Homo sapiens: one gene and its partners. The protein of the gene in region 1 interacts with the protein of each later gene in a pairwise test. Each region holds a gene or a part of one and is shown on either strand. Other genes may lie near its edges.

Region 1 (9,073 bases):
CTTTCAGAGCCCTCAGATCACGTGAATCACAGAAATCAAGTGATGATCTTTGAAACTTTCTGAAACTGAGCTCCCCAAGTCTACAGGGGATCTAACCATGCCTGGCCTTCCCCACCAACACAGAGCACATCTCCCAAAGGCTTCCAACCAACCTGGGCCATCAACCAGGGTCCCCTGTTGCCCAACTCAGCAAGTGCTGCATCCTGGGAGATGAAGCCTCGCCCACCCCACAGTGTTAAGAGCTTGTGGTTCTCGGTTTATCACCCATCCTCTGGTGACTGCACACTGATCATTCACTCATCTGGGAACCACTGGCCACATTCTCCCACATTATCACCTTGACCAGGTTGTCTCAGGTAACCTTCGAGCCTTCCATCCAAATAGATGTTAAGTGCACGGGCTCCACGGTTGGAGGCCAGCTCTGCTGTATCCAACCTGTGACCTTGGGCAAGGCGTGGGTCCCCTCCAGGCCTGTTTTCTGATCTATAAAGAGGGTCACCTTGGTGTTTTCTTCACTGGGTTGTGGGAAAGATTAGAAGGATTAATATAGAGAAAGTGCTAAGGAACCTGGCTCAGTAAACATTAGGGGTATCACTTCTTATCGCACTGAGTGCAAAGGGACAGAGTCCACTCCATGGCAGCCTTCCCATTACTCCTGAGCTCTCAGGGACCAGTGCATAACAGTGTTTAATAAATGACCAAACAGCCTGGGCATTTTTCTCCTTCCTGCTCCACCTACAGAAGAAAGAACTCTTGGCAAACATCTGGATAACCTCTTTTTCCTGGGATGTCTGAAGTCACTCCCTAACCCAAGCCAACTGGCCAGCCTCAAGCTGTTCTGAGCTGCAGGTCAGGCACCAGATCTTATTCAGAGACACCATGTACCCCCACCCGCTCCCCCCAAGCAGTGCTTTGCTGCATCTGCTTTTCTCTTCAGTTAAAACACACAAGAGCAGAAAATACCTCCTGTCTTCTAATCCTTTGGTATCCCTAGTCTCTGCAGAAGCTTCCCAGACCCTTTTGGAAGATTCCAGAGGACAATCATCTACGGGCCTTTTCTGCATTTGGATTGTGAGGTCCTGGGGTTTCCTAAGAAAGGGAATACACCTGTTTCCAGGAATCCTCCTGGCTCTGGCACACTGAGGAAATTAAACACTGAAGGTGATCCAGGCTTTCCCAGAGGCTGGCTGGTGGCACTGGGGAGATGAGCAATTCCTGGTCAGCCCCTACAGGCTCTGTGGCCAGCTACGCCTGGACCCCTCTAGCAGCAATGCCTGCTGCATTCGAGGAAAGCCAAGTGCAGGAGACTGCGAACACAGCCAGTACCCATGGAAGCAGGGAGAGTGGCCCTAGTGCAACATAACTTGGCCACGTCGACCCTCATAGGGGTGGATGTGATCTCATCATCCACTCAGATGTCTGAGACTGTGCAGAAGCAGGGCCAGTGAAAGCAGAGGGCAGATCCAATGCTTCAATGGGGCCCTGCTGTGCAGATTGAGAGTCTGCCATGAATATGACTGAGGATGGCCAGGACATAGAACAGGGAGCAGTGTTCTGCCAAACAATGCCAATAGGCAGTGGCTGGTGCTGTGTGGAGTGATATTTTAGACGTTATATTTGCCAGGGCTGCAGCAACATGGAAGTCACATAAAGGGACTGAATTAGCCCTGGTCACTCAGGCGCCAGGGCACTACTTGTGTTCCAAATCAACCCTGCCACTACCTGCCTGAGCTCAGACAAACACTCTGGGCCTCCATCTCTTCATAAGTAAAACAAGAATGGTGATCTTCACTTCAGGCACTCACGGACAGGACTCAACAGGGCTCTGTGCATGCCAGATAGCAAGAGCACAAGGAACAGCAGCTCTTTTCCTGATACAACTAGAGAATAAAGGTGGAGCCTGAGACAGTGGTCCCAATTCCACTGGCAGCCTTCAGGCAAAAAGTCCATGATTTTACCTCAGCTATTCCTTCCGACCTTCCCAGGTTCCAACAATAGCATCATCTAAGGATAAAAAGACAATGATGTTCTTATAGAGGCACAGACCACTAATGAGGAAAAATAAGTTTAAAAATATTTAAGTTTGTCTTTTTTTTTAAATAATTGGTGTGATTATATGTTTCAAACAAAAGTTGCCACCTCTTGGATGTCTGAAAAGAAATCTGCCAAGCAAAGCAGACACGATGATTCTAAATCATTTGCAAAGTCTTTTATCCCTCCCCCCAGAATCCGCATATGTTGGGGATCAGGGATTAGATATAAAGGCAATTTAACTTTTTAAACCAGAAAAAAGCCTCACAAATCACAGTTCCATGCACATACCTATGAATTTGTCCAAAATATCTAGCATATGCAAATTCTTTCACTGAACACACTGCAATGCACCTTCATCATACTTAATTTCTGTTTAATTCTGTGTGATTTATCTACGGCCAAATTTCCATTTCTGTATCAATCAAAAGTAAATTAGTTGAATTTTCATTAAAGGTCATAATAAACTACAATATCATGTTAACTTATTTCCAAGAAGTGAAAGCTTCAACCTTTATTGGTAATTAAGATCTTTACAAACAAACAAGGGCTCTTTTATAACTTAGTGCATATATATTATGTATTTGTGTGTGTTTGAACATATAAATATGTATGTGTCATAAAATATCATTAAAAACTAAATCACATATCTCTGATAAGATTACATTGTAACCAAGAAACAAAAAATTGCCTCGATATAGTTCTATTTTATCCCTCAAAAAGAATGAGACTTGATTTTCTAGAGTTCGTCCCTTATGCATCTACGACAATCTTTGATACTAACAGGAAATATTTTCCCCTTGGCCCTCCTATCTAATGTACATAAAATCATTACTTTCAAATGCCATAATTACTGCCATAAAATGTCTAATGTCTCCCTCAGGAGTAATTAATTTCATTTCTGTACATCAGTGGCATTGGCAACTACATATTTTAGAAATTTACTGTTAATTTCTTATTTCCAGGCTCCCTCAAATGTTTCAAAGCCCTGGCCTCCCACTGTCTTCCTACAACCCTGCTCTGAATCCTGTCCCCTCCCTCCCCTGCACCTGGCATTGCATAGCCTGCCCAGAAGGCAGGTGTGGGTGGGAACGCCCCCTAAATGCTTCTGCAAGGCTTAGCTTCCTGCTGTGCTGTCTGTGTCTATTAGTAAAGGCAAAATGTCAAGGAAAGGATTCAATCAACCCCTTGTCTCTAAAACCAGGTATGTTCTTTTAGCTCATTCTAAAAACTCATTATAATGTGATCATTTGGTATTGTTTTGTTTCCCAGGAAAGGCAGTGAACAGGATACATGTCCAGATCTTTGGATATAATCTGTTGGAGAAAGGATCTGGGGCTGATGCATGGTTCTTACCCTACTGCCCAGCGCAAGCCCGGGCTGAGAATAACAGCAACACAGGATAAACCCCGGGAGAGACAGTGGGAGGGAGGAAAACAACTGCAGCCTGAAAGTCACCCTAGGAGAAAAATTCATAGGCAGAATTCTTGAGTGCTGAAAAAACAGGGGGGAGAGGGAGAAGGTAGGGGAGAAGAATAAACAAAGAGAGGAAAAGAGAGAGGGAGAGAGACTGACACAGAAGAAAATGAAAACAGGAAGACAATAAAGAAGAGATAGAGGAGAAAAAGTGAGAGAAGAGAAAGGGAACAGAAACGGGGATGGGACTCGGAGACGACGTGGGAGAGAGAGGAAGCTGGCGACATTGGGAAGGAAAGGACCCCACAGTCAAAGGCAGGACTCAACAACCCTGTCCTGGGGAAAGGCTGATGTGGAAGTGAGATGGACCCCGCCGCCCGCGCCCGCTCGCGGCTCTGTCCCTGCAGACAGGAGGGTGCGCCTCACCTGGGCTCTCTGGAGATGTGGAGCAAGAGGTGCTGGTGCAGCACAGCCTCCTCCCGGCCAAGAGCACTGCGCGTGGCTCTGAACTTGGCGCCGGAGCCCTGAGGGCGGCCAGATCCCGCCCCCAAGCCGCTCCCGCCTTCGGGGCGTGGTCTCGGCGTCGCCCACCCCCAGGGAAGCTCCAGCCTTCGGGGCGGGGCTTGCGGGTGGGCGGCCCCGGCAGGGGAGGGTGCCGCTGGCCAAAGAACTCACAACCCCGGGAGAAAACCCCCTTCTGACCCTCTGGGCTGCCCGGCCCTTCCCCGGCTCAGCTCCGCGGAGATGCCCCCAGCTGGCTTGGTCAGGGCCGGGCGCCATCGCCTGCGGGAGGGCGAGGGCGTTCTTTGGAGGCGGTGCCTGCTCTCGCCTACGCCCTCTGGTCCTGGGCGCCCGACCTCTCGCTCCTGGGCCCGCGGGGCCTCGGCGATGCGGGCGAGGGCTGCGCGCGGTGCCTGCGGCTCCAGTCTGCGCCGAGGACCCCCACGGCCTCCTGGCCCTCCTTCCCCCAGCAGCCTGGCGGCCGCTCGATCGGCACCTCCCCCCGCCGGAATCGCCCAGCTCCCCCCGGGAGCGCCCGCCGCCTCTGCTCCCCAGACCTCAGCTGTGACCACGCAACGCTCTGCCAGGAAGGCGGACTCCGCGACTCGGGCCATGGTGGAAAATGACAGTTAAAGTGCGTTAAAATTAAGAACTTATACTTTGATTAAAAAACAACAAACGGAGTGAAAAAGCAAGCCACACACTGAAAGAAGATACTTGCAGCAATTGATAAAGGATTAGTATCCAGGATATATACTTTTAATGAATTAGTGTGAAAGAGAGGAACACCCAAAGCAACGAATGGACACAGACATGAATAGGCACTTCAAAGAGGAACCACTAACGACCAAAATCATGTGAAAGGACGAAGTCTCTAGAGTAATTAGAAAATGCAAATTAAGACCACAAGGAGATGTTTAATCATTAGGCATAAATGTTAAAATATAATAATACCAACTGTCATGGAAGGCATGAAGCAAGGGAACCCTAATATGCTGGGGCGAAGTACACCCAATTTCATTTATTATAAAAGACCACTAATTTAAGATATTCTATTATACTAAATACAGCTCCAAAAGAGGGGGAAAAAACTGACAACCAACCAACTCAAATGCTTTTCATCACTTGTAATTTTTAAGTTATATAAAGAAAGATCTATTTTAGACTGTATTAATCCATTCTCACACTGCTATAAAGAATTGCCTGAGACTGGGTAATTTATAAAGGAAAGAGGTTTAATTGACTCACAGTTCAGCATGGATGCAGAGGCCTCGGGAAACTTACAATCATGGTGGAAGTGGAAGCAAAACAGGTCCTTCTTCACAGGGTGGCTGGAAGGAGAAGAATGAGAGAAGTGCAGAGTGAAGGGGGTAAAAGCCCCTCACAAACCCATTAGATTGCCTGAGAACTCACTCACTATCATGAGAACAGCACAGGGCAACCACCGCCATGATTCAATCACCTCCCAGTAAGTCCCTCCCCCTACATATGGGCATTACAATAAGGACTATAATTCAAGATGAGATTTGGGTGGGGAAACAGAGGCAGGCCATATTATTCCACCCCTGGTCCTTCTCAAATCTCATGTCCTCATATTTCAAAACACAATCATGCCTTTCGAACAGTCTGCCAACGTCTTAACTAATTCCATCATTAACCCAAAAGTCCAAGTTCAAAGTCTCATCTGAGACAAGGCAAGTCCTTTCCACCCATGAACCTGTAAAATCAAAAGAAAGTTATTTCCTAGATATAATGCAAGTACAGGCATTGTGTAAATACACCCATTCCAAATGGGAGAAATTGACCAAAACAAAGGGACTACAGGCCCCATGCAAGTTTGAAACCCAATAGGGCAGTCATTAAACCTTAAAGTTCCAAAATGACCTCCTTTGACTCCATGTCTCACACCCAGGTCATGCTGGTGCAAGATGTGGACTCCCACGGCCTTGGGCAGCTCTGGCCCTGTGACTTTACAGGGTACAGACCCCCTCCCAGCTGCTTTCTTGGGCTGCCTTTGAGTGCCTGTGGCTTTTCCAGGCACAAGGTGCAAGTTGTCGGTGGATCTACCATTCTTGGATTTGAAGGGCAGTTGTCCTCTTCTCACAGCTCCACTAGGCAGTGCCCAAGTGGGGACTCTGTGTGGGAGCTCCAGCCCCACATTTCCCTTCTGCACTGCCCTAACAGAGGTTCTCCATCAGGGGCCTGCCCTTGCAGCAACTTCTGCCTGGTCATCTAGGTGTTTCCACACATCCTCGGAAATCTAGGCAGAGATTTCCCAACCTCAATTCTTTTTTTTTTTTTCTTTCCTGACATGGAGTCCCACTCTGTTGCCCAGGCTGGAGTGCAGTGGCATGATCTCGGCTCACTGTGACCTCCACCTCCTGGGTTTAAGTGATTCTCCACTTCAGCCTCCCAGGTAGCTGGGATTACAGGCACCTGCCACCATGCCAGGCTAATTTTTGTATTTTTAGTACAGACAGAGTTTCACCATGTTGGCCAGGCTGGTCTTGAATTCCTGGCCTCAGGAGATCCGCTGGCCTTGGCCTCCCAAAGTGCTGGGATTACTGGCGTGAGCCACCACACCTGGCCCCAAACCTCAATTCTTGACTTCTGTGCACCCACAGGCCCAACACCATGTGCAAGCTTCCAAGGCTTGGGGCTTGAACCCTCTGAAACAATGGCCCAAGTTGTACCTTGGCCCCTTTTAGCCACGGCAGGAGCTGAAGCAACTGAGACGCAGGGCACTATGTTCCAAGGCTGCATAGAGGAGATGAGGGCCAATGAGCCTGGCCCACGAAACCATTTTTACCTCCTAGGTCTCTGGGCCTGTGATGGGAGGAGCTGCTGTAGGTCTCTGAGATGACCTGGAGACATTTTCCCCATTGTCATGATGATTAACATTCATCTCTTCATTATTTATGCAAATTTCTGCAGCAGGCTTGAATTTCCCCCAGAAAATGGGTTTTGCATTTCTATCACATCTTCAGGCTGCAAATTTTCTAAACTTTTATGCTCTGCTTCCTCTTGAACCCTTTGTTGCTTAGAAATTTCTTCCACCAGATACCCTAAATCATCTCTCTCAAGTTCAAAGTTCCACAGACTTCCAGGGCAGGGGCAAAATGCCATCAGCCTCTTTGTTAAAACATAGCAAGAAGCACCTTTATCCTAGTTCCCAACAAGTTACTTATCTCCATCTGAGACCACCTCAGCCTGGACTTCATTGTACATATCACTATCAGCATTTTGGTCAAAGCCATTCAACAAGTCTCTAGGAAGTTCCAAACCTTCCCACATCATCCTGCCTGTCTGCTTGTTAGCCCTCCAAACTGTTCCAACCTCTGCCTGTTACCCAGTTCCAAAGTCACTTCCACATTTTTTGATATCTTTACAGCAGCACCCCACTACCTGATAACAATTTATTGCATTAGTCCATTCTCATGCCGCTGTAAAGAACTGCTCAAGACTGGGCAATTTATAAAGGAAAGAGAGATTTAATTGACTCACAGTTCAGCATGGCTGGGGAGGCCTCAGGAAACGTACAGTCATGGCAAAAGGGGAGGCAAACACGTCCTTCTTCACATGATGGCAGGAAGGAGAAGAATGAGAGAAATGCAGAACGAAGGGGGGAAAGCCCCTCACAAAACCATCAGATCTCATGAGAATTCACTCACTATCATGAGAACAGCATATCACCCCCATGATTCAACCACCTCCAATGAGGTCCTTGCCCCAACACATGGGGGTTACAATTTGAATTATAATTCAAGATGAGATTTGGGTAGGAACACATAGCCAGAACATATACACTTGGTAGAAATTTTCTAAAATTATATGCCACTCTTGTGCATACAAAAATGGAGAAAATAAAATTGATTAAGGTATTTCTACAAATGTTTTACAGTAACACTCTGACTTCTGAATCACGCTTGAATCCCACTTGGTTGTGCCCATGTTTTTCCACACACTATACCCTCTCTGCCATTCAAAGCCCTGGTCATACAGCAGTTTTGACACTGGGATGTGAACTCATTCACACTCCTGCCCTAGAGCTGGGGCCTGTGTTCCCTCCCACTGACTCTTGGTATCCCATTGACTGCTTGGATTAATAGAGTACAGTGGAAGTGACACTGTGTGATTCCCAAGGTGATGCCATAAAAGGCTCTACAATTTCTGACTTGCTCACTGAAAATACTTACTCTTGGAACTCTAAGCCACCTGTTAAAGCCCAAGCACCTTTAAGCCACCATGCTGAGAGGAAGCCCAGGTCATACAGGGAGGCCACATGCAGAGTCTCCATTCACAGTTCCAGCTGAGCCCAGCTTTTGAGTCCTCCTGCCAGAACCCACACTTATGAATGGAGGATCCTCCAGAAATCCCAGTATCCAATCCTTCAAGTCATGTCCGGCTGCTCAAGCCTTCCCATCAGGGTCTCCAGACATGTGGAGCCCTCCCCACTCTGCCCTGAGTGCCTGATCCTCAGAACCTGTGAGTGTAATAAAATGGGCCTTCATCATAGAATAAATAGGCTTCATTGTCCTCTTATTAATGCGGGAAATTTCCTTTTTGTTTCATTTTGTTTTCCTGCTTAATACTGTTGTGTTCCCCAGGAATGTTTCCTGCTCCAGGCTGACAAGTCCTCAGTCTCCACGCCTTCCTCACCTACTGGCTTCCTTGCTCACTTCCTTCAGCCTGGCCTCTGATTTCAGGCTGACCTAGTGACCGTGCACTGGAGGCCTGTGCTGTGGGGTCCCCTGTACCAGCCCACATTTCCCGCTTATCTTTACCACCAGCCATGAAGTAGGGGTGGAGACGATGTTTAGCCCTGGGGAGAGGAGGAAACTGGCTCAGAGAGGTTAAGTAGCATGCCCTAGACATTCAGCAGATTCAAACTTGGATCTTATAACTTGTGTCTACCTGATCCACAATCCATGCTATTAGGTTTTTTAAGTTATTAATTGTGATAAAATATATACAACATTAAATTGACCATTTTAACTAGTTTTAAGTGTACAATTCCTTGACATTAAGTACATTCACAGTTTTGCACCCATCACGATCACCATGCATCTCCAGAATTTTCTCATCCTCGCATACTGAAAGTCTCTATTCACTGAACAATTACTAC
Region 2 (7,585 bases), on another chromosome or scaffold:
CTTTGCTCTTTTTTGTGCCCCAGGAGCTCCCGTCTCTGCCCTTGTCCACATGTCCAGATACCACCAAGCACCCAAGGAAGTCATGGCCTAGGCCTAATTTTGTCCTCAGTGGGAGAGCCTTGCTTCCAGCATAGAACTCAGCAGCTCAAGCCAAGTTCCTGCTCACAGTCACAGTCAAAGCCTGTGCATGGAGCTTTGTCTTACTTTGTAATTCTTGTTCTTGAGGTAACAAAGTCTTCTCTTTCTCCCTGCAGGAGAGAAGAGGCCATTGTGAGGCCTCCTTCACTGCCCATAAGATCCTGTCTCGAGGAGGCAGCCCCGGTCCTGTGCAAGTGGGAAGATTGTGAGGGCCTCCTAGAGGGACAGGATCCTGGGCAGCATTTCCAGAGATGGGGAGGAGTGCCTGTGAGCCCATCCCTTTATGAGCAATGTGGCTAGGGGTATATCTTCCTTCTCACAGAGGAGACTCTGGCATCTAACTCATAGTGTTCTCTACTCCTACTCCTGCTGCCCTCCTGGAGTTCTTTCACTTTCCACATGGGTTGTATAACCAACACCCTAGAATCACAGGCCATGGACCCCTTATCTCCAGAATAGTCACCTTCTGTCCCCTTCAACTACCTACTCTCTGGACCTTATCATCACCTGGAGCTCCACCTCCTCTGTGTTCTTAAGTGCAACTGTCTGAGCACCAATACCCTCTCTCACTATGCGACTTCTCGCAATGTCACTCCAAGACACCTAGCAGCATATCTATCACATGAGAGTCACTTAAGTGATATTTATTGAATAAACTATACTAGTTCTTGGGTCTCGTGTTCATTGATCCTGCCTTTGTATCCCAATCCAGTAGCTAGATCTTCCCACATTTCCACCTGCTGAAAGCTGATCTACCCTTCAAACTACAGCTGAGGTCCTGTCTCTCCCACATAAACATGTTGCTCGCTCCCCAAATATAGGGAAAAAAAGAAGCAGAGAGCACATCTAATTCACTTTGCAATTTCAATGTTTATTTCTGATACCAAAACTTGACAGCACACAAGGGGAAAAAAAGCAGTAGACAAGGAACAGCAAATAAATTTATCTTGCATGCCACTTTCAGTCAACAGGATGTGGCTCTCTAGATAGCTGTGTTTAGAAGGAATCTGAGGCTTCAGCCTCACACAGGGGAAAGACTACTGCGATTGATAGCAATATCTGTGAACATAAGAAAGAAGAAGTAAAAAAATCAATGATATATATCAAATAATAAGGAATATACATACCAAAGAGTGCTGCCCCATACTTTCCTCATCTCCCTACAATGAGTTTCCTAATACTTCTAGCTCATGCACATAAATACAACCCCATGGACCCTATATCCCCCAGAGACCCTAACTGCCCAATCCAAAGTGATGTACCTACCCAACATCTCACTCAACCCAGAAGAAACCAATGGCACCAAAGTTGGCAGCGAAGTTGGCACTGGCTGTACCACCAGGACCAATAATGGGACCGGCAAAGGTCTGAGGGAATCTGGAGCGGGCATTCTGGTGGTATCTGGCCCAGAAGGTAAATGGAATTCTGGACCAGGGATCTCCAAAATCTCCTTCCTCATCCCAGGTCAGCAGCTCAAACTCAATGTCATCCCAGCTCCAGGGCCCAGACACAGCCTCATCTCCAATTCCCATGCGGGTTCTTGCTTCAGCCCGGGCTTCGGCCTCAGCTGCAGCAGCATCCAGAGCATCCAAGGCCTCATCTGCAGCCTCCATGAACTGTGCAGTCCAGTCACGAGGGTCTCTTTTCTGAACCTGAGATGAGGAATAGAAAACAAAACAAAATCCATTTACAATAGCCAAGATATGGAATCAACCTACCTGTCCATCAGTGGATGAATGGATAAGGACAATGTGATACACACACACACAATGGAATACTATTCAGCCTTTAAAAAGAAGGAAATTCTGCCATTTGCAACAACATAGATGATGCTGGATGACATTATGCTAAGTGAAATAAGCCAGACACAGAAAGACAAATACTGCATGACCTCACTTATACATGGAATCTAAAAACGTCTAACTCATAGAAGCAGAGAGTAGAATGGTAGTTTCCAGGGCCTGGGGTCAGGAGGGATAGGGAGATATCGGTTAAAAGGTACAAAGTTTCATTTAGATAGGAAGAATATGTTCTGGAGATCAACCGTATAGCATGACGACTATAGTTAATAATAATGTGTCGTTTATTTAAAATTGCTAAAAGAGTACATTTTAAATGTTCTCATCACAAAAAAAATGTCAAGTATATGAGGCTATGGAGAGTTAACTAGCTTGATGTAATCATTCTGCAATGTACATGTATTATCAAAACATCATACTGTACCCCATAAATATGTATATTTTTTATTAGTCAGTTAAAAATAAATGAATGGGCCGGGTACGGTGGCTCACGCCTGTAATCCCAACACTTTGGGAGGCTGAGGCAGGCAGATCACTTGAGGTCAGGAGTTTGAGACCAGCCTGGCTAACATGGCAAAACCCTGTCTCTAATAGAAAAATAAAAATTTAGCCAGGCATGGTGGTGGCACGTGCCTGTAATCCCAGATACTTGGGAGGCTGAGGCACAAGAATCGCTTTAACCTGGGAGGCAGAGGTTGCAGTGAGCCAAGATTGCGCCACTGCACTCTAGCCTGGGCAACACAGCAAAACTCCATCTCGGGAGAAAACAAATAAATAAATAAATAAAACAAAATACTTAAAAATTACATTGTACACCACAAATATATACAATTTTTGTCAATTATAATTTAGTAAAGTTGGGAAAAAATAAAAATACTTTAAAAACCTAAAAAAAAACCCAAAACAAACTCATAATTGTATTAGCTAATATATTAACATATGTTAGCACCTAATACATGTTAAGTTTACCTAACAGCAACAACAAATACCACCAGCAATGCGGCACCTACCACCTGCCACACCTAGGATCTCATTCCTACCCTGGGCCTTTCCCAGCCAGCTATACTTCATCCCTTGACCTATCAATGCTGGAACAGTTCCTCCATTACCTCTGCAATGAATCTCAGCACTTTCATCTTGCTAGTCTCATGGTAGGAACGGAGGCCCCAGAGGAACTCATACTCCGGGGGGTTGCTGTTGGGCACTCGTCTGTAGTCCAGGTATCTGAAAGAGCAAAACAGTCTTTGTGTCTACCTACCCAGGCAGAATGGTAGTCCACTAATGAAAAATAATCTTACATTTTTTAACAGATTTCAGATAGCAACTCCCCCTTGGGCTCATTCCTGAACACCATCAGGGTATTTACCCCTTAATCATCAAGCCTTAAATTCCTGCACTAGAACGCTAAGCACTCACTAGAGATGCAGGCGAGGCTTGTATAGGGTCACAGAAAGGACAACATTTCCTTTCACTCCTTCTGCCTCAGCTCTAGCTCCAGATTCTTGTAATCTTGTCAGTGAGCCACAGAGGTCCATTGAAATGAGTACAATGCAGTGCAAAAGTGTCAGCCTGGCCCAGCCTTGGGAATGTCTACTGTGGGGATGGTGGATGGGCTTCACTTGCAAGACAACTGCTTAGAAAAGTAGAAAAATTAGAAAAATTCTGGCCGGGTGTGGTGGCTCACACCTGTAATCCCAGCACTTTGGGAGGCAGAGGTGGGTGGATTGCTTCAGGTCAGGAGTTTGAGACCAGCCTGGCCAACGTGGTGAAGCCCCATCTCTACTAAAAATACAAAAACAGCCGGGCACGGTGGCACGCACCTGAAGTTCCAGTTACTCGGGAGGCTGAGGCACAAGAATTGCTTGAACCTGGGAGGTGGAAGTTCAAGCGAGCCAAGATTGCACCACTGCACTCCAGCATGGGCAACAGAGTGAGACTCAGTCTCGAAAAAAACAAACAAAAGAATTCGCCCGGTACGGTCGCTCACGCCTGTAATCTCAGCACTTCTGGAGGCCAAGGCAGGCAGATCACCTGAAGTCGGGAGTTTGAGACCAGCCTAACATGGAGAAACACCGTCTCTACTAAGAAGACAAAATTAGGTGGGCGTGGTGGCACATGCCTGTAATCCCAGCTACTCAAGAGGCTGAGGCAGGAGAATAGCTTGAACCCAGGAGGCAGAGGTTGCGGTGAGCCGAGATCACGCCATTGCACTCCAGCCTGGGCAACAAGAGCGAAACTCCGTCTCAAAAAATAAAAAAATAAAAAATAAAGAATTTAACCATGAGGAGTATATGCAATAAATACTCCTGAGGACATAAGTGTTTCTGTATGCACAGAAACACATATGCACAAGTATAGTGTAAGAAACGAGCTTGAGAAGGGCTTTCTTTTATTTTTTTTGAGACAGGGTCTCACTCTGTTGCCCAGGTTGGAGTGCAGTGGCATGATCACAGCTCACTGCAGCCTCAACTTCCTGGGCTCAGATGATTCTCCCCTACCTCAGCCTCCCAAGTAGCTGGGACTACAGGTGCATGTCACCACGCCTGGCTAATTTTTGTATTTTTTTGTAGAGATGGGGTTTCGTTATGTTGCCCAGGCTGGTCTTGAACTCCTGGGCTCAAGCGATCTGCCCACCTGAGCCTCCCAAAGTACTGGGATTACAGGCATGAGCCATTGTATCCAGCCAGGAAGGGCTTTCTAAAGCTGACCAGCACACAGGCAGAATCATAAGAAGCAGGAAAAGCCCCTTAGGCATCACTTACTTCTGCTTTACAAACTCATAGGTGAGAAGTTTCCTTAGATCTCCAAGGAGGGGATGTCTCACCCTGAAGGTAAAAAAAGGAAACCCACAATCAGAGGCTATTACCATGCCCAAAGAGCTTTCCAGAACAGAGGTCAGAGATGAGAAAAGAGGCAGAGAGTTCAGAACTGTTTCCCCATCCACCCAGGTCACATCTTTGGGCTCTGAACATCCCCAAACCAAACCCTCCAGACCCCCAGGTTAATGCAATCCTGGGACCATCCACTGTTGCCAAAGGATGGCACAAACAGGCAAGAGATGAGAGAGCCCAATCATACCCAGGACGCAGTCCCATCTTGCGTAGTGCCTCCCAGAGGACAGCTGCAATGGGAGGCAAGGGGAGACAAGGGACGGAAAATAAGCATGGAAATCAGGCTGTGGCCAACCCCCAGCTGCAGGTCCAGCCACTCACCCTCACTGGCACGGTTGCCATTCATGAAGATGACACCCAGAATCACCAAGAGGAGACCGAGCTTGGGTGTGTCTTTGGTCCTAAGGGAATATAGAAAGAATATATTTTCAGTAGCCATTTGCATGAGAGACCCCAACCAGCTTGCCCATCTAGCCTCCCCAATATTCCTCAGCTAGGGGAGAATTATACCCCAGCTCTGCCCATGACCTGCTATGTGACCCTGAACCCTGGACCCTGATCTACGTGAAACTCCTAGAAAAAAAGCACCACTGAGAAAGGCCATGTTCCACCTTCTTTCCCATCTTACGTTCCCAGTATGCCAGCCAGGGACTCGGGGGTACTGATGAGAATATACAGGTGTTCTTCTTTGTCAATTTCTTTCAGTTGAATCCCAAATTTCTACAGGGGCAAGAAAACAGACTATGAAATTACAACATCTAGCATAAGCTACCCATAGGCAGACACTCATCTCCCTGAGACTTGCCCTAAACTCCCAGTAGGAACCCCATGAATCTTTGAAATCAAGACTTTCCCCATTATTCCTGTACCCCAGGGCTGCCTTCTCACCTTCTCTAGGACAAAGCATGCACGTTCAATGATTTCTGGATAAACATCAGTGTATTCACGGATGATATCTCTCAGCATTTCTGTAGGAGAGAGGAGGGAGCCATCTGAGCCGAGCGGGGGCCACAGAGCAGCAGTCCCTTTGCCAGCCCTGCTGGGGGTAGCACAGTCAAGGTCCTCAAGGGTGGAAAGAGCCAACCATGGAAAGGAGGGGATAGAAGGGGAAGGGTCATACAAGCAGAAGAATGCCGACAGAGCATGGAGTGAAGGGAAGGGCAGAGCTACAAGCAGAAGAATGCTGACAGAGCATGGAGTGAAGGGAAGGGCAGAGCTTGGGGAGGGGACACTGGATGCATACCTGAGCGCTTGATGGGCACCTTTGTGTAGTCCTTAAGCATCAAGTACTTGACCAACTTATTTGCCTGGGAGGGAAAAAGGAAATCATTAAACTTATAAAATATTTACAAAAAAACTTGGTTGAATTACAGATGAGAGGATGACAAAGAAAAGAGCAAGAGAGGGGAAAAGTGACTGGGGAGTTACAGCTCTTACTCTTTCCTGAAGAAGGGCCACATCTCGGGGCTGTGCAGCACCTGGGTTCTGTGAGGCACGCGAGTTGGGAGAAGGGCGCAGGTTAGGCGAGGGGCGCAGGTTCTGCCAGTCAGGTGGAATTGGCCAATCAGCGGGGATCCAGTCAGGTGGTAGTGGCCAGTCAGTGGGAAGTGGCCAATCAGGTGGCAGTGGCCAGTCGGGTGGTAGCGGCCAGTCAGGAGGACCTTGCCAGTCTGGAGGACCCTGCCAGCCCGGTGGGGTCTGCCATCCAGGTGGAGTCTGCCATCCAGGTGGATTCTGCCAGGCCAGTGGATTCGGCCAGACAACAGGGCCGGGCCAGACAATGGGGTTTGGCCAGATCACTGGGTTCTGCCAGATTACTGGGTTTGGCCAAATCACTGGGTTCTGCCAAGCGACTGGGTTCTGCCAGGCTGGTGGGGTCTGCCTAGCTGGAGGGCTCTGACGTGCTGGTGGGGTCTGCCTGGCTGTCTGGTTTTGCCAGCCTGAGGGGTTCTGCCAAGCCAATGGCGTCTGCCAGAGCACATTGGGGGGTGCGCCAGGTGGGTTCTGAGTGGTCACTGGAACTGGTGCAGACCTCCAGGTCCCTGCAGCCAGTGGGGCCCGCCTCTGATCCCCACTGCTGTTCTCTTCAACATTCAAGTTATTAATCTGCATCATCAGAGAGAAGTTCAGAATCACCAGTGGGTTCTGTGTCCTCACCTTATCTATTCCAGGAATGCCCTCTAAACCCTCACCTGTAGTGACAGCCTGACCCACTAGCCATTGGTCACCCTGAGTCCTGGGTTTGTCTTTCACTGTCTTCCAGGCAGGAGTTTCATCTCCGAGCCAGGCCAGGAGCAACCCAAAGATGGGGCCTGAGGCTTCTCCTCTTCCTATGTCCACCACTGGTTCTGCCTGTACCACCCTGAACAAATCACTCAAGTCACTTCACCTCTCTGGCACTTAATTTCCTTCTTTGTAAAATTGGCACTATGATCCCTACCTGGTAGGAGGTGCCTTTAAGGTTTAATGAGACAACCTGTGTGAATGTGCCTAGCTCAAGGCTTAACACATGGTGGTTACTAACATAACAAAATGTAAACTGAATTACATACAGGTTGTATATATTATTTGTGTCCATGTATTATCTCCCCATCAGTTTGTGAACATCCGGAGGACAGGAATAAACATTCTCTTCAAATGCCCTATAGCCTAGCTGAATACAGTTACATACATTGTTTTGTTTAGAACAAATGAACACCCTCAGAGAAGAAAGGAGACAGCCCCAAAGCAAAATGAAGTTAGCAGAGATCTCACCTT
Region 3 (4,958 bases), on another chromosome or scaffold:
CATGAGGTCAGGAGATTGAGACCATCCTAGCTAACACAGTGAAACCCCGTCTCTAGTAAAAATACAAAAAATTAGCCAGGCGTGGTGGCGGGCGCCTGTAGTCCCAGCTACTCAGGAGGCTGAGGCAGGAGAATGGCGTGAACCCGGGAGGCAGAGCTTGCAGTGAACTGAGATTGCACCACTGCACTCCAGCCTGGGCAACAGAGCAAGACTCCATCTCAAAAAAAAAAAAAAAAAAAAGTGGAAAAGAAGGCCGGACGCAGTGGCTCACGCCTGTAATCCCAGCACTTTGGGAGGCTGAGGCGGGCAGATCACGAGGTCAGGAGTTTGAGACTAGTCTGGCCAACATAGTGAAACACTGTCTCTACTAAAAATACAAAAAATTAGCCAGGTGTAGTGGTGTGCACCTGTAATCCCAGCTACTCGGGAGGCTAAGGCAGGATAATTGTGTGAACCCGGGAGACAGAGGTTGTGGTGAGCCGAGATTGTGCCATTGCACTCCAGCCTGGGTGACAGTGCGAGACTCTGTCTCCAAATAAAAAAAAAAAAGGAAAAGAAATTCCATCCCAAGGTGATCCCTCACAGGAAGTGACTCAGAAAAGCAGTGAGCTACGAAAGCTATCTGAATGAAGCAAGATCGTCATGTGGGAGACACTGACTACCCACTCCTAGCAAAGGGCTCAGCAGCACACGGCCTCCCTGCGGGGATGCCCTCGGGGAAGATGTGGCCCAGAGGAGTTTTTTGGGCCTTGCTCCTCAGTCCTGGCTCTTAGTAGGACCCTCTGCAGCCAAACTAGCATATCCTGAGCCAGGCTGACCTTAAAAAGTAAGCATTCAGGGCCTAGGGACCTTGGGCAAAGCAGAGAAGCTGGTGTCAGATGAGGTGCAGCAGGTACAGTAGGATAAGGTGTTCTCAGGTCGCCAGTGCAGCCCCAAGATGAGCCTGCAGTATTTTCCTTACATGATCTGGTCCTACTGTGGGCAGCGCTGCTGCCCAGAGCCTGAGAGGATTATGAAAACATGGCAACGGAAGTGAGGCCAGGGGACACAGCATGGGGGCATGAGGAGCAGGGGACAGCGGGTGGGGCTAGAGGAGAGGGAGGTTTAGGGAGGCCTCTGCTGCTGTGACTGTGAGCCCCAGCCAATGATGACGTGGCCACCGCACAATCTGAGTTCTGGGAACCATGTGATGGAATGTGTTCTGGGAATAGACTGCAGCCAGGAAAAAAAAAGCAGAAGGGTGCACCCTCCCTTCCTCAGCCAGGAAAACATTTCTGTAGCCCTTGCGGACCCAATGCGCAGAAGTGAGAGGGAGGAAAGCCAGGCTCATGTTTCCTTGGTTGTGCTTCAACTTCTAAAATATGTTTTTTCTATGAACATTTTAATGAGGGGTTGGACATAAGACAGAAAAATAACATTCTGAGAGCTCGTTTGGAGGTTCTAGCAGGGGAGCGCAGCTACTCTTATACTCTTGACTGAAGACCGATCGTCCTCTATCGGGGATGGTCATCCTCTTCCATTGAGCACACAGCTTCTGGAGGGACGCACATGGAGTGGTGAGGGAGGAAGGGGATACCCGCCTAGTCAGCCAGATCAGCCGAATCAACCCTGATGATCAATGGGGTGACACATGTCGCAGCCAGATCACCCTCACATCCCAAAAATAACACTCAGATTGCTTTTTCTTTTTTAAGATGTAGACTTTTCTTGAGACTTTCGTACAAGGCAATGGACAGATAACCTTAACCTCCCAGAGAAAACACACATTGGCCACAGAAAAAGGCGCTTCTCCGTATACCTGCCATAGTTATCAGCAACTTTGAAATGGCTTCTCAGACTCTCAGGGGTTGGCTTGTTGTGTTTGCTTTTGCAAATAACTCAGGCTTAAGTCCTGCTACTTTCAGAGCCTAGGGGACGCTTAAGGACTACCATCAGTTTAACACAGTGGCACTTGGAGCACATGCTACTTATGGTGGTGAGGAGGGGTGCTGGTGTGAGGGTCTGAACGCTTGCTTCTCCTCTGGCAGGGTGTGAGCAGCCAGAGGCCACTACCTGGGCAAGGATGCTTGCTCAGTGTCCATGGAGGGACATGTGATCCAGCAGGTGGGCAGGAACCAGGCCCCTGTGGCCGCCCAACTCTCCATAATAGAATCCTTGGTCATCCATGGGCCCGTAAACCATGACCACGTCTCCTGCCCTCAGCGCCAGCCTGCCCTTCCCCTGGCCCCCCATTTGCCCATCCCCAGGATCATAGTCCAGAGCTGCTATCATGATCTTTGGAGTCCACAGTGGGAGTCTCTTGGAGTTCCCCTGGAGCACCAGGGAGGAACCCTGGGGGATGGTGAGCCCCTGAAAGTCCTCGAGGTGGGCCACAGAAGGCAGGTTCCCTTGGGCCGGAGAACGCCACCTCCTATCAGTCTGCTCTGTCCCCACCTCCATCTCAGCCACTAGGCGCCCGGGGATATTGCCCACTTGCCTGTTGCACTCGCTGAGGTAGAAATCATGGGTGTCCTGAGAGCCCCACACTCTTAGCAACTGCCTTTTCTGGAAGACCAGCTCCTCCTCTGCAGCCTTGAGGTTGGCAGACATCACCAGGGGGTTGTAATCAGAGAGGGCCACAAAGACCCTGGCTGGAGTGTTGGCCCCCGTCCCCAGCTGTTGGGGGCCACCCCTGGGCATCTTGATGACTTTGGCGGATGGAGCTGGACACAGTGCCGAGCTGGGCTCATGGAGCTGGCACCCTCTCTTCACCCCCAGAGCTTGTCCTTGCCTGCTGTGGGGCTCAGGCTCCCTCCTCTCCTCTCGCCTCTCTGTGCCCCACAGATCCAAGCACAGTGCCTCCTGCTCCTCCTTCAAAACGTTATGGAAGTCAGATGCATACTGTTGGCTGGCGCCCAGCTGGGGAGGTGTGAACCCTTGGGCATCTTGCTTTTGCCGAAGTACCCTCTCAAGGGCAGCCTTTTCCTGACACGGTTCTTTCCTGGGCCCACACTCGGTGCGTAGATGGATGAATCCTGGAGCAGGGCTTTTGCTGGTGCCCATGTGCTGGGAGCAATTTTCCTTCTCCCCAGGCTGGTCACTGACTGAAGGTGGCCTGTGGTTCTGGGGACTCTTCTGAAAGAGCAGGTCCTTTCTACAGCCCTCCCAGGCCTCTGCAAGCTCCTGGGCTTGGCTGCCAGCCCCTGAACTCGGACATTCTCCTTCTGAGCCCAGGTTGGACACTGGGGATTGCCTCCTTGGGGGTTCTTCAAAGAATGCTTCTAGGAACTTGGCCTGGGGCTCCCCGCAGCTTCCAGGGTTGTGGGGGCTGGCCTTGGCACTCGGAGGAGCCAGTGACAGCTTCTGGGGGCAGACGGGGAAGGTGACTCTGTAGGTGGATGGGTCGCCACAAGTGTAGCTAAAGGGTGGAGTCTCTGGCCATCGGTGACACATGAAGAAGTCCTCGGGGATCTGAGCAGGCACTGAATCCAGGGACTCACCACAGAGTGACATGGTTCTCACTGAGACCTTCTGCCACGTGAGGGGCACCTGTAGCTGGGAGAATTCCAATAGGGTGCTCCCAGCAGTGGCATCGGCGACCTCACAAACCTTAAGCCCATCTGCATACACAGCATAACCGGTGACCTGGACTCCATTGGAGGACCCAGCTGAGTCAATGGTCACAGGGAGCCAGCTGACCACCAGGACACCTGGCGAGGCATGGCGCTCCACCAGCACATCCAGCGGTGGGTAGGGAGGTCCTGCCAAGAGTGTGTCGAAGGTGACGGTGGAGGACATAGTTCCCCAATACACCTGCAGCAAGTCCCGTGGCAGCCGCACCTCCACCCGCGCCCGGTAGTGCGTGCCGGGGCACAGGCCCTGGAAGGTGTAGCAGCTCACGCCCGCTGGGGTCAGGGCATGCTCTCGGTCATCAAGATATACCACATGGGGGTGGCGGTGGCTGCTGTAGACCCAGGTGATGTTGGCTGATGTGGCTGTGACATTCTGCAGGTGTAGCTGCATGGGAGCCATACGGAGCACCCCTTTGGTCCCCAGAAGGGGTCTGGAGAGGCCCTGCTTCCCCATGCTCTGCAGCAAGCCCAGCTGGCAGGCTTCCGTCTTGGTATCCAGGATCTCTGTTGCTACTTCTGTCTTGGAGCCCACCCTGACCATCTGGCACAGCCCTCTGTCCACCACTCCCTGGGCTTTCCCAGATAATAAGCTGTCTTCCTCCAGAGCTTCATCCTGCCCCGCTGGGAGTTGACTGGGGCCAAGATCAGGGGATTTGGCAGGCAGGCAGCCTGGGATGTAGCTGTCCGGAATCTGCTCCACGAAGTTGGAGGGCACCAGCCCCCGCCGGCCATCCTCAAGCTCCCCCTCATAGAAGCCATCCTCATCCATGTCCCCGAAGATATATATGTAGTCCCCAGCTGTGAGGGGCAGCTCACCCTCAGGGTGATCATTGGGCCCCTCAAATGGGTTGTAGTTATACTGAGCCATGAAGATCTTGAGCTTGGGGGCAGCAGGAGCCGCCGAGCCCCCCATTTCCAGGGCCAGGGACACGCTGTCAGGCTCCAGGTCATCCACCTCACTGGCTGTGTCCCTGTCCAGAGTAGGGGAGGACGGCACGGTGGCCCACATCGACCCCTCAGAGGAGGAGTTTGACTGGGAGCTGGTTTTCTTGGACAGAGGTTGGCTGGCAGGGACTGTCTCTGAAACTTGGGGGACACTGGCTGACTCCCCAAGGGCAACTGGGCTCTCCTCGAGGGAGGCTTCCCTTTTCTCCTGTATGTCTCTGTTGGGCTGTGACACTGCGTAGTCTTCAGGCCGTGCGTGGAACTTGGGCCTTCTGCTACCTTTAACTTGGGACTCCGGCATTTGACTGGTCTCCCAGGGCTGTTCAGGAGGGTGACCAGGCCGACACTGGAGCGCCTGTATCTCCTTCCAGGAAGGATGGAGGTCACACAGGGCCTTCTGCG
Region 4 (8,353 bases), on another chromosome or scaffold:
TCAGGGCTCCTGAAGTCCTCAGCCCGGCCCCTTCCCACCCTCCCTGCCCCAGCCAGACACCCTCCTGGCGTCTCTGCTAAAGCTGTCCTTCCTCCTGGAGCCTCCCTATTCCTCCACTCTCCCAGCAAACCCTTTCCTACTGGTTTTCCTACCAGTCTGACACAGAGCATCACCTCTTCCAGGAAGCCTTCCCAGCTTTCCACTGCTTCTCCAGGCAAATCCCTTATGTAAACCAGCCACCGCCCATGGCCACTGAGGTTTACACGTCTGTCTGCCCCATGGGATGTGGAGTACCCAGAGGGCCGGGCTGGGTCTCATGTGTGTGCCCAGCTCAGGGAGGGAGATTCATGACTAATCTCCAGCCTGCTAGGAAGAGTAAGGTCTTGGTCTCTCATGACCCCACACGGGCCCAGGGAGGGTCTCTCATGATCCCTCCCTGTGGTGCAGGGAGCCGCATGTTGGGCTGTCCAGCATGGCCTGGCTCCCAGGTTTGGAGAGGGCATGTGAGGACAGGCACTCCAGGGGACAAATGTCAGGAGTCTGTCCAGTTCTCCAGAGACCTGGCATGTCACCTGAAGGCCCCCAGGTACCCTCTGAGCTTACTCCCTCTCCTCCCTAGAGCATCTTCTGAAATGTCACGTTTTGACGGCGCCTCCCCGCCACGCCCCAGCTTCTCCCTTGTAGCTCCCTCAGATCCTGTCGAAGTCACAATTTATGATGATATTCCTGTCCTCCACCAGAATGAGAGTTTCTCGATGATGTTTGTTTTGATTATTCAGGAGTTCCGGGAACCTAGATCACTGTCTGGCACATGTAGTGGCAGATGTTCAATGAATGTTTGTGAGACGCACAGAGAAATGAATGAATGAATGAATAAACGAATGAATGAATGAACGAATGAATGAATGGACAAATGAATGAATGAATGAACGAATGAATGAATAAATGAATGAATAAAAGAATGAATGAATCAGTGAATAAACAAATGAATGAATGAATGAATGACTCCCTTCCCGGGCAGAAAGGGACAAGGCAGTCAGCCCTGCATTCTTCCCCCAATGAGGAATGTGGATGATGGAAGGTCAGGCCAGGACTGACAGCCAGGTCCCAGCCCCTTTGAACCCCTTGGTTTCTGCCTCAAAGGTAGGGACTTCCTGCCACCTCTGTCCTGACCCCATCCCCCACTGGTGTGTGTCCCACTCTGGCCCATGCAAGGGCAGCCTCATGCAGGCATCTTATTCCAGCAGAATCACGTGGGTTTCATGCATCCAGTCCCCCAGGGGCACTGCCACTAGGAAACGAGGGGCTTCATTTCCTGCCACACAGCGGGTGGGACAGACCCAGTCCCCAGCATTGCCCAGAAGCCATGGACCGCCAGCCGACCTCCAGCTCCCCTCAAGGCCCCATGGCTCAGGCCAGCCCTGGGGGGATGGAGTCCTCAATGCAGGCCAGCCCACCATTCACTTACCTGGTGGACCAGGGGGACCCCGGGGTCCTGGGACACCTGCCAGCACTGTGTCCACGATGGCAGAGGCCAGCCTTGAGTCTCCATCTGTGGGAAGAGCGGAGCGGCCAGGGGTCTGGTGGGGCAGACCTGGCAGTGCTGGGAGGCTGGTCCGGGGCACTGAGCCCTGAGCCAGGCCACACGAAGCCCAGGGGGGCTCCTCCCATCACCCTGGGGCCCGCTGCAGATACTGTTGCCCCCACTGCTCAGAGGAGCACGGAGAGGCCCAGACAAAGAGCAGGGAAAGCCAGGTCGGTCAGCTTCATATAAAACATAAATACCTTCTAGAACATTCCAGGCTCTTCAGACTCTGGGTCTGCCCTGCTCACTTCTCCAATGCCCCAGGCTGGCATCTTCTTCCAGGCTCCATCCCACAGGCCCATCCTGCTGCACCCAACTGGCTCACTCCTCCAGGAAGCCCTCCATGCCCACCCCTCTGAGCTGTGCCTGGGGAGTCTGATTACATCATGGCGACCACACTGCCTGGAGCAGGGGTGGAGTCTGTTTAACAACCCATCTCCCATGGCCCTCCAGGATGAGCCCCTCACCTGATTCACCCTGGCCAATCCTGAACCAGACCCAGGGCCCCAGGGCAATGCCATCACCTTCCTCATAAAACCCTTCCCCAGGCTGGGCACAGTGGCTCACACCTGTACTCCCAGCACTTTGGGAGGCTGAGGAGGGAGGATCACTTGAGGCCAGGAGTTCAAGACCAGCCTGCCCAACATAGTGAGACCACATCTCCAGACCAGCCTGGGCAACATTGTGAGACCCCATCTCCACTCAAAAAAAAAAAAAAAAATTAGTTAGATGTGGCGATACATGCCTAGGGTCCTAGCTACTCAGGAGGCTGAGGTGGGAGGATCCCTTGAGCCCAGGAGTGAGAGGCTGCAGGGAGCTATGATGGCGCCACTGCATTCCAGCCTGGGCAACAGACCCTATGTCAAAAAAAATTAAAGTAAAAATCTTCCCCAGTTGCCGGGACACTTAACCAGAAATGATGCTCCTCTCAGGGCTCACGGACTCCTCTGCCTGGCCTCCCACTACCTCATGGTCCCTTAGGCCCAGAGTCCTGGTCCCGTCCACTCTCTGCACCTCCTTGTCCCCACCTCCCAAGGTAGAAGTGGACATTTCTGTGTGTTCAGAGGCTCTCTTGGACTGGCCGGTGCCCCCGAGGGCCGGAGTTTGTTTTGCACATTGCTGTGTCCCCAGTGGCTAAAATCCTGTGCCTTGCACATAGTAGGTGCTCACTAAACACCTGCTGAATGACCTGCAGTGAGGGCGGGTGAGGAACAAGTACAATAAGGGATAACCTTGGTGGGGTGGGGTAGCCAGGTAGGGAATCTGGGCCAAGTCAGCCAGCAGAGTGAACTTTGGGGCTCACAACCCCAAAGGCAGGGAGCTGAGCACTGAGGCAGAGACAGGCCACTTTGGGGCCAAAAGCAGGGCTTGGGGCTAGCCCTGGGTCCACTTGAGGATGCTTAGCCCCAGGACCAAGCCTTGCTCCCAAGCTGTTCCCTGTCATCGTCACTGGCAGGCCCTGGACACTGCATGGAGGGCTTCCTGGAGGAGGCCTGCAGGAGTGAGCCAGTTGGGTGCAGCAGGATGGGCATGTGGTGGGGTCCACTTCCCAGGATCCTTTAAGGAAGGCTGATCCCTCCCAGAACACAGCGTAGCTCAGCCCTCCCTTGGCCCCCCAGGGGCATTACTCACTGTCTTTGTCTGTAGGCGGCTGCAGGGAGTAGAGGGCGCCCTGGGGGCTGTTTGGTGAGGGGCCTGGGTTGCCTGCTGGGCCGGGTGGTCCTGGGGGGCCGGGGCGCCCCATCTCTCCAGGAAGCCCACGGGGCCCTGGAGGCCCCAGGAGCCCTGCAATGAGGAAAAGAACAGTCACTGTGGCAGCCGGAGCCTGGCGGGTGGCTGCAACTTACAAATGGGGAAACTGAGGCCTTGAAAGAAACAGGGTTGGTCAGGGGCCCACAGGCAGTCAGTGGTGACCTCCGATCCACAGTCTTCCTTGGGGGTGTCCTGGGGTGTAAATGAAATGGGCTTCCCTTCCCAGCCCAGTCCAGAGGGGACACTTAGTGGCAGCTTGGGAGGGTGAGGGGGGCAGGGACGGTGAAATCAGCAAAGGCTCTGGCCAGAGGCCCATTGGTCCCTCCCAGGGACTTCAGCCCTGTGGCAGGAACACCAAGTATAAGCCACCATCCTGGGCTGGCCCTGTACCTGCTGAACCAGGGGTCCTTCCCCGGCAGGACCCAGGAGGAGTTGAGAGGGTGGTCTCTGGAGGTGTTTAAATGGCTGAGAACTGCTCCTGGCCCCTGACAGCCTCGATGCTCATGCCTGTACCCGAAGCCCCTGAAGACCCTGTTTTGGCCAGGTGTTGTGGCTCACCCCTGTAATCCCAGCACTTTGGGAGGCCAAGGCAGGCAGGTCACCTGAGGTCAGGAGTTCAAGACCAGCCTGGCCAACATGGTGAAACCCTGTCTCTACTAAAAATACAAAAATTAGCCAGGCATGGTGGCAGGCACCTGTAATCCTAGTTACTCAGTAGGCTGAGGCAGGACAGTTGCTTGAACCTGGGAGGTGGAGGTGTCAGTGAGCTGAGATTGTGCCACCGTGCTCCAGTCTGGGCGACACAGCACAAGACTCCATCTCAAAAAAAAAAAAAAAAAAAAGCCAGGTGAGGTGGTGGCTCACGCCTGTAATCCCAGCACTTTGGGAGGCCAAGGTGGGTGGATCATCTGAGGTCAGGAGTTCGAGACCAGCCTGACCAACATGGTGAAATCCTGTCTCTATTGAAAATACAAAATTAGCCAGGTGTGGTGGCGCATGCCTGTAATCCCAGCTACTCAGGAGGCTGAGGCAGGAGAATTGCTTGAACCCGGGAGGCAGAGGTGGCAATGAGCCGAGATGGCATCACTGCACTCCAGCCTGGACAACAGAGCGAGACTCCCTCTCAAAAAATTAAAAAAAAAAGACCCCGTTTTTCTGGTACCCAGCAAGATCAGGGCTGTGGGTGCGTGGGACACCTCGCCTGTTCCAGTAGAGAAGAAAGCCCAGCCCCTTCCGCAGGTTGACAACATCACATATGTGGGGGGTTTTCTTACCAGGCGGCCCCGCTGGACCCTTCTCTCCTGTCTGGCCTCGGTCACCTTTAGACCCGGGGGGGCCTGCAGGCCCTGGTGGTCCTGTCTGCCCCGGGGGCCCTGGGGAGAGAAGGAGACAGGGCATCAGAACATGGTGGACCCCCAGCCTCCAGTGGCTCCAGGCCTGGCCCCCTGGGCTGTCAGCCTACGTTCCCCCAGGAGCCCTGCCTACCTGGGACTCCCTAAACAGGCAAAGGCACTCACATCACCTTGGAGCTGGTTATTACAACTTACAAACCAGCTTTGCACTTACAAACATCTATGATTCTAAGAACTGCTTTCGTTCCCATTTTCAATGTGGGGAAACTGAGGCTCAGGAAGGTTGGTCCCTTGCCCAAGCTCACACAGCCAGGCTGCAGATGAAGTTGCTTAGCTCCAGGTCCCTCTCTCACACCCTGCTGTCTCTCTGCTTAGGGTCAAGAACCGGGCTTGTGGCAAAGTGCTCCCCAACAGGTGGCCTCCGAGGAGGCCCCAGGAGGTCCTGAAGGATGGATCTTCCCAGCTACAGATCTCTAAACCCCAAGGGTGGACAAGGAGATGGAGAGGTAAGGCTTGCTGTGTGGCCAGGGGACAGCCTTTTCTCCCTCTGGCCCAGAGAGGATGCTGAAAAATGTTTGCTCAGCACCTTAGGAGGCTGAGGCAGGAAGATCACTTGAGCCCAGGAGTTTGAGACCAGCCTGGGCCACATAGTGAGACCCCATCTCTACAAAAGATACAAAAGTTAACCGGGCATAGTGGTGCACGCCTGTGGCCCCAGCTACTGGGGACGTTGAGGTGGGAGGATGGCTTGAGCCCAGGAGGTCTGGGCTGCAGTGAGCTATAATCACACCACTGCATTCCAGCTTGGCTTACAGAGCGAGACCGTCTCAGAAAAAAAAAAAAAGTTTGCTGATCTGATGAAGGGACCTGCACTGAGTCTTAGGGCCCTTTGCACTCTGCCTGCATGGGACTGTGGTATGGTGGGGAGGGCCTGGCTGGGGGCTGCTGGCCTCGGAAGAGCCCCACCTGCGCTCTGGAATCCAGGTTGGCTGCAGGTGTCACCATGTGTAGAGTGTGTGCCCCACCTGGTGGCCATTCTTGAAACTGCATTTTCCCCTGGTTGGAAAGGTCTTGCCAGGCATGCGCTTTCGTGGGCCTGGGTCCCCGGTGGGATGGGAAGCCCCTCCTCCTCCATCCCCCAAGAAAGATCTGAAGAATGTGGGCATGAGGTAACGCTCTGGGGGTGAGACCTTAGGGACAGCGGCTCGAGGGGTAGGCCGGGGGCCAGAGTGAGAGAGGTCCCCCTTCCCGTAGGAGACCTGAGCTCGGCCCTCCTCCCGCAGCCTTCAGTCCCTTTCCAAGAATGCAGGATACCCTACTCTCCTTCCCCGGCCCTGGGACTGGCCACTGGAGGCCACCTGTGTCATGCATCTCTCCTCCCTGCTCTGCCCCTGCTCCCCAACCCAGCATCAGAATAGACACTCAGAACAGAGGGCAGAGGGAGAGCGCCCCCTCCAAAGGGCTCTAAGGGCAGAGAATCATGGAGGCAAAATGCCCCCAGCTTGCTGGCTTGCTGGGTGACCCCAGGGGTGTCACTTAACTTCTCTGAGCCTCAGGTGTCTCCCCTGTAACCTCAAGGCTTCCAAGCTTTGTGTGAAGATTAAGAGTGATATCTGTAGGCTGGGTGCGCTAGCTCACACCTGTAATTCCACACTTTGGAGGCCGAGGCGGGTGGATCACTTGAGGTCAGGAGTTTGAGGCCAGCCTGGCCGACATGGTGAAACCCCGTCTCTACTAAAAATACAAAAATTAGGCTGCGTGTGCTGGCTCACACCTGTAATCCCAGCACTTTGGGAGGCCAAGGAGGGCAGATCATTTGAGGTCAGGAGTTCAAGACCAGCCTGGCCAACATGACAAAACCCCTTCTGTATTAAAAATGCAAAAAGTAGCGGGGCTTGGTGGTGCGTGCCTGTAATCCCAGTTATTAGGGAGGCTGAGGCAGGGGAATCCCTTGAGCCCAGGAGGCAGAGGTTGCAGTGAGCCGAGATCACGACACTGCACTCCAGCCTGAGTGATAGAGTGAGACTCCATGTCAAAAAAAAAAATTATATCTGTATTTGAAATATTTTCATATCTGATATGAAAATATTTAATAACTGGCACAGTGCAGATCCTGACCACTCATGGTAGACCTCAGCCTTCAACCCCTGGATTCAGCCTTATAGACAGGTGTTGTTTGCTAAATGTCCTCCAGGATAAAGCCCCACCTCAGTGTCTGGCAACCAGGAGGGCTTCATCGATTGCAACTATGATTATTACAATTGTGATTAAAGCAAAGGTAATTACAGCCCCAGGTGGCAGAGCCCAGACCAGTAGGTAGAATCTGCAGAGGGAAAATTCTTCCCCTTAACTTTAAAATGTGGCCAGGGCCAAGCATGGTGGCTCACACCTGTAAATCCCAGCACTTTGGGAAGCCGAGGCATGAGGATTGCTTAAGGCCAGGAGTTTGAGACCAGCCTGGCAACGCAGTGAGACCTCGTCTCTACTAAAAATTAAAAAAAAAAAAAAAAGCCAAGTGTGGTGGTGTGCACTCGTAGTCCCAACTACTTGGGAGGCTGAGGCAGGAGGATCACCTGAGCCTCGGAGATGAAGGCTGCAGTGAACTATGATCATACTACTGTGCTCCAGCCTCAGTGACAGAGCAATACATTGTCTCAAAATAAAATAATAAAATAAAATAAAATTGTAAAAGTGTGGCAGGAAGGCAGGGGGGCAGATGTCCTCCAATTCCAGCCAGAGAGTTCAGAGAGCAAACCCCAGAAAGAGGTGGGAAGCAGTAAGTTCCTGCTCCCTGGCCAGGCAGAATGCTGCAAAATTGAACCCAGCAAGGCTGGGCTGGGGGCCATAAGTGCAGAAGCCAAGGAGCAGGGCAGATACTGAAGACAGTAGCTGAGCTGTAAGACAATAGGGAATGGTGGGGACTGCGGCAAACTGCACAGCCTGGACTGGACCTACAGTGGCAACCCAGTAGCTGGTTGTTTCCATGAGGGACTGCCAGCCCTGATGGCCAATTTTCTCATTTTTATTTTTATAATTTTTTGTAGAGACAGGGTCTCACTATGTTGCCCAGGCTGGTCTTGAGCTCCTGGCTTCATGCAATCCTCCCACCTCAGCCTTCCAAAGTGCTGGGATTATAGGTGTGAGCCACTGCACCTGCCCAAGATCATCTATTTTTTTGAGACAGGGTTTCACCCCGTCTTCCAGGCTGGATTGCAGTGGCATGATCTTGGCTCACTACAGCCTCCACCTCCCCAGCTCAAGCAATTCTCATGCCTCAGCCTTAGGAGTAGCTGGGATTAATCATGCTGGGCTAATTTTTGTATTTTCAGTAGAAATGGGGGTTTTACCATGTTGCCCAGGTTGGTCTCGAACTCCTGACCTCAAATGATCCACCTGCCTTGACCTTCCAAAGTGCTAGGATTACAAGCATGAGTGAGCCACTATGCTCGGCCAGATGGTCTACTTTTTTTTTTTTTTTTTTAGACGGAATTTTGCTCTTGTCCCCCAGGCTGGAGTGCAGTGGCGTGATCTCGGCTCACTGCAACCTCCGCCTTCCGGGTTCAAGCGATTCTCCTGCCTCAGCCTCCTGAGTAGCTGGGATTACAGGCACCTGCCTCCACGCCTGGCTAATTTTTGTATTTTTAGTAGAGACAGGGTTTCACCA

The links.
Region 2: the proteins of ZNF488 (region 1) and MAGED1 interact in binary tests that used the Homo sapiens proteins (3 or more experiments, as listed by UniProt).
Region 3: the proteins of ZNF488 (region 1) and RIMBP3 interact in binary tests that used the Homo sapiens proteins (3 or more experiments, as listed by UniProt).
Region 4: the proteins of ZNF488 (region 1) and COL26A1 interact in binary tests that used the Homo sapiens proteins (3 or more experiments, as listed by UniProt).

The regions. Positions count from the first base shown.
Region 1 is NC_000010.11:47,380,347-47,389,419, forward strand, and holds the start of ZNF488 (zinc finger protein 488), read right to left. Parts: upstream 3,948-9,073; 5' UTR 3,874-3,947; intron 3,491-3,873; exon of another isoform or gene 3,388-3,490; intron 2,005-3,387; exon of another isoform or gene 1,959-2,004; intron 516-1,958; exon of another isoform or gene 1-515. UniProt on the Homo sapiens protein: Transcriptional repressor. Plays a role in oligodendrocyte differentiation, together with OLIG2. Mediates Notch signaling-activated formation of oligodendrocyte precursors.
Region 2 is NC_000023.11:51,895,758-51,903,342, reverse strand, and holds the end of MAGED1 (melanoma-associated antigen D1), read right to left. Parts: coding exon 7,583-7,585; intron 6,935-7,582; coding exon 6,266-6,934; intron 6,136-6,265; coding exon 6,072-6,135; intron 5,797-6,071; coding exon 5,717-5,796; intron 5,549-5,716; coding exon 5,457-5,548; intron 5,230-5,456; coding exon 5,150-5,229; intron 5,059-5,149; coding exon 5,016-5,058; intron 4,763-5,015; coding exon 4,700-4,762; intron 3,162-4,699; coding exon 3,047-3,161; intron 1,791-3,046; coding exon 1,413-1,790; 3' UTR 1,405-1,412; intron 1,198-1,404; 3' UTR 989-1,197; downstream 1-988. UniProt on the Homo sapiens protein: Involved in the apoptotic response after nerve growth factor (NGF) binding in neuronal cells. Inhibits cell cycle progression, and facilitates NGFR-mediated apoptosis. May act as a regulator of the function of DLX family members.
Region 3 is NC_000022.11:18,604,445-18,609,402, forward strand, and holds the end of RIMBP3 (RIMS-binding protein 3A), read right to left. Parts: coding exon 2,071-4,958; 3' UTR 1,371-2,070; downstream 1-1,370. UniProt on the Homo sapiens protein: Probable component of the manchette, a microtubule-based structure which plays a key role in sperm head morphogenesis during late stages of sperm development.
Region 4 is NC_000007.14:101,540,355-101,548,707, reverse strand, and holds part of COL26A1 (collagen alpha-1(XXVI) chain isoform 1 precursor), read right to left. Parts: intron 4,711-8,353; coding exon 4,612-4,710; intron 3,371-4,611; coding exon 3,218-3,370; intron 1,553-3,217; coding exon 1,469-1,552; intron 1-1,468.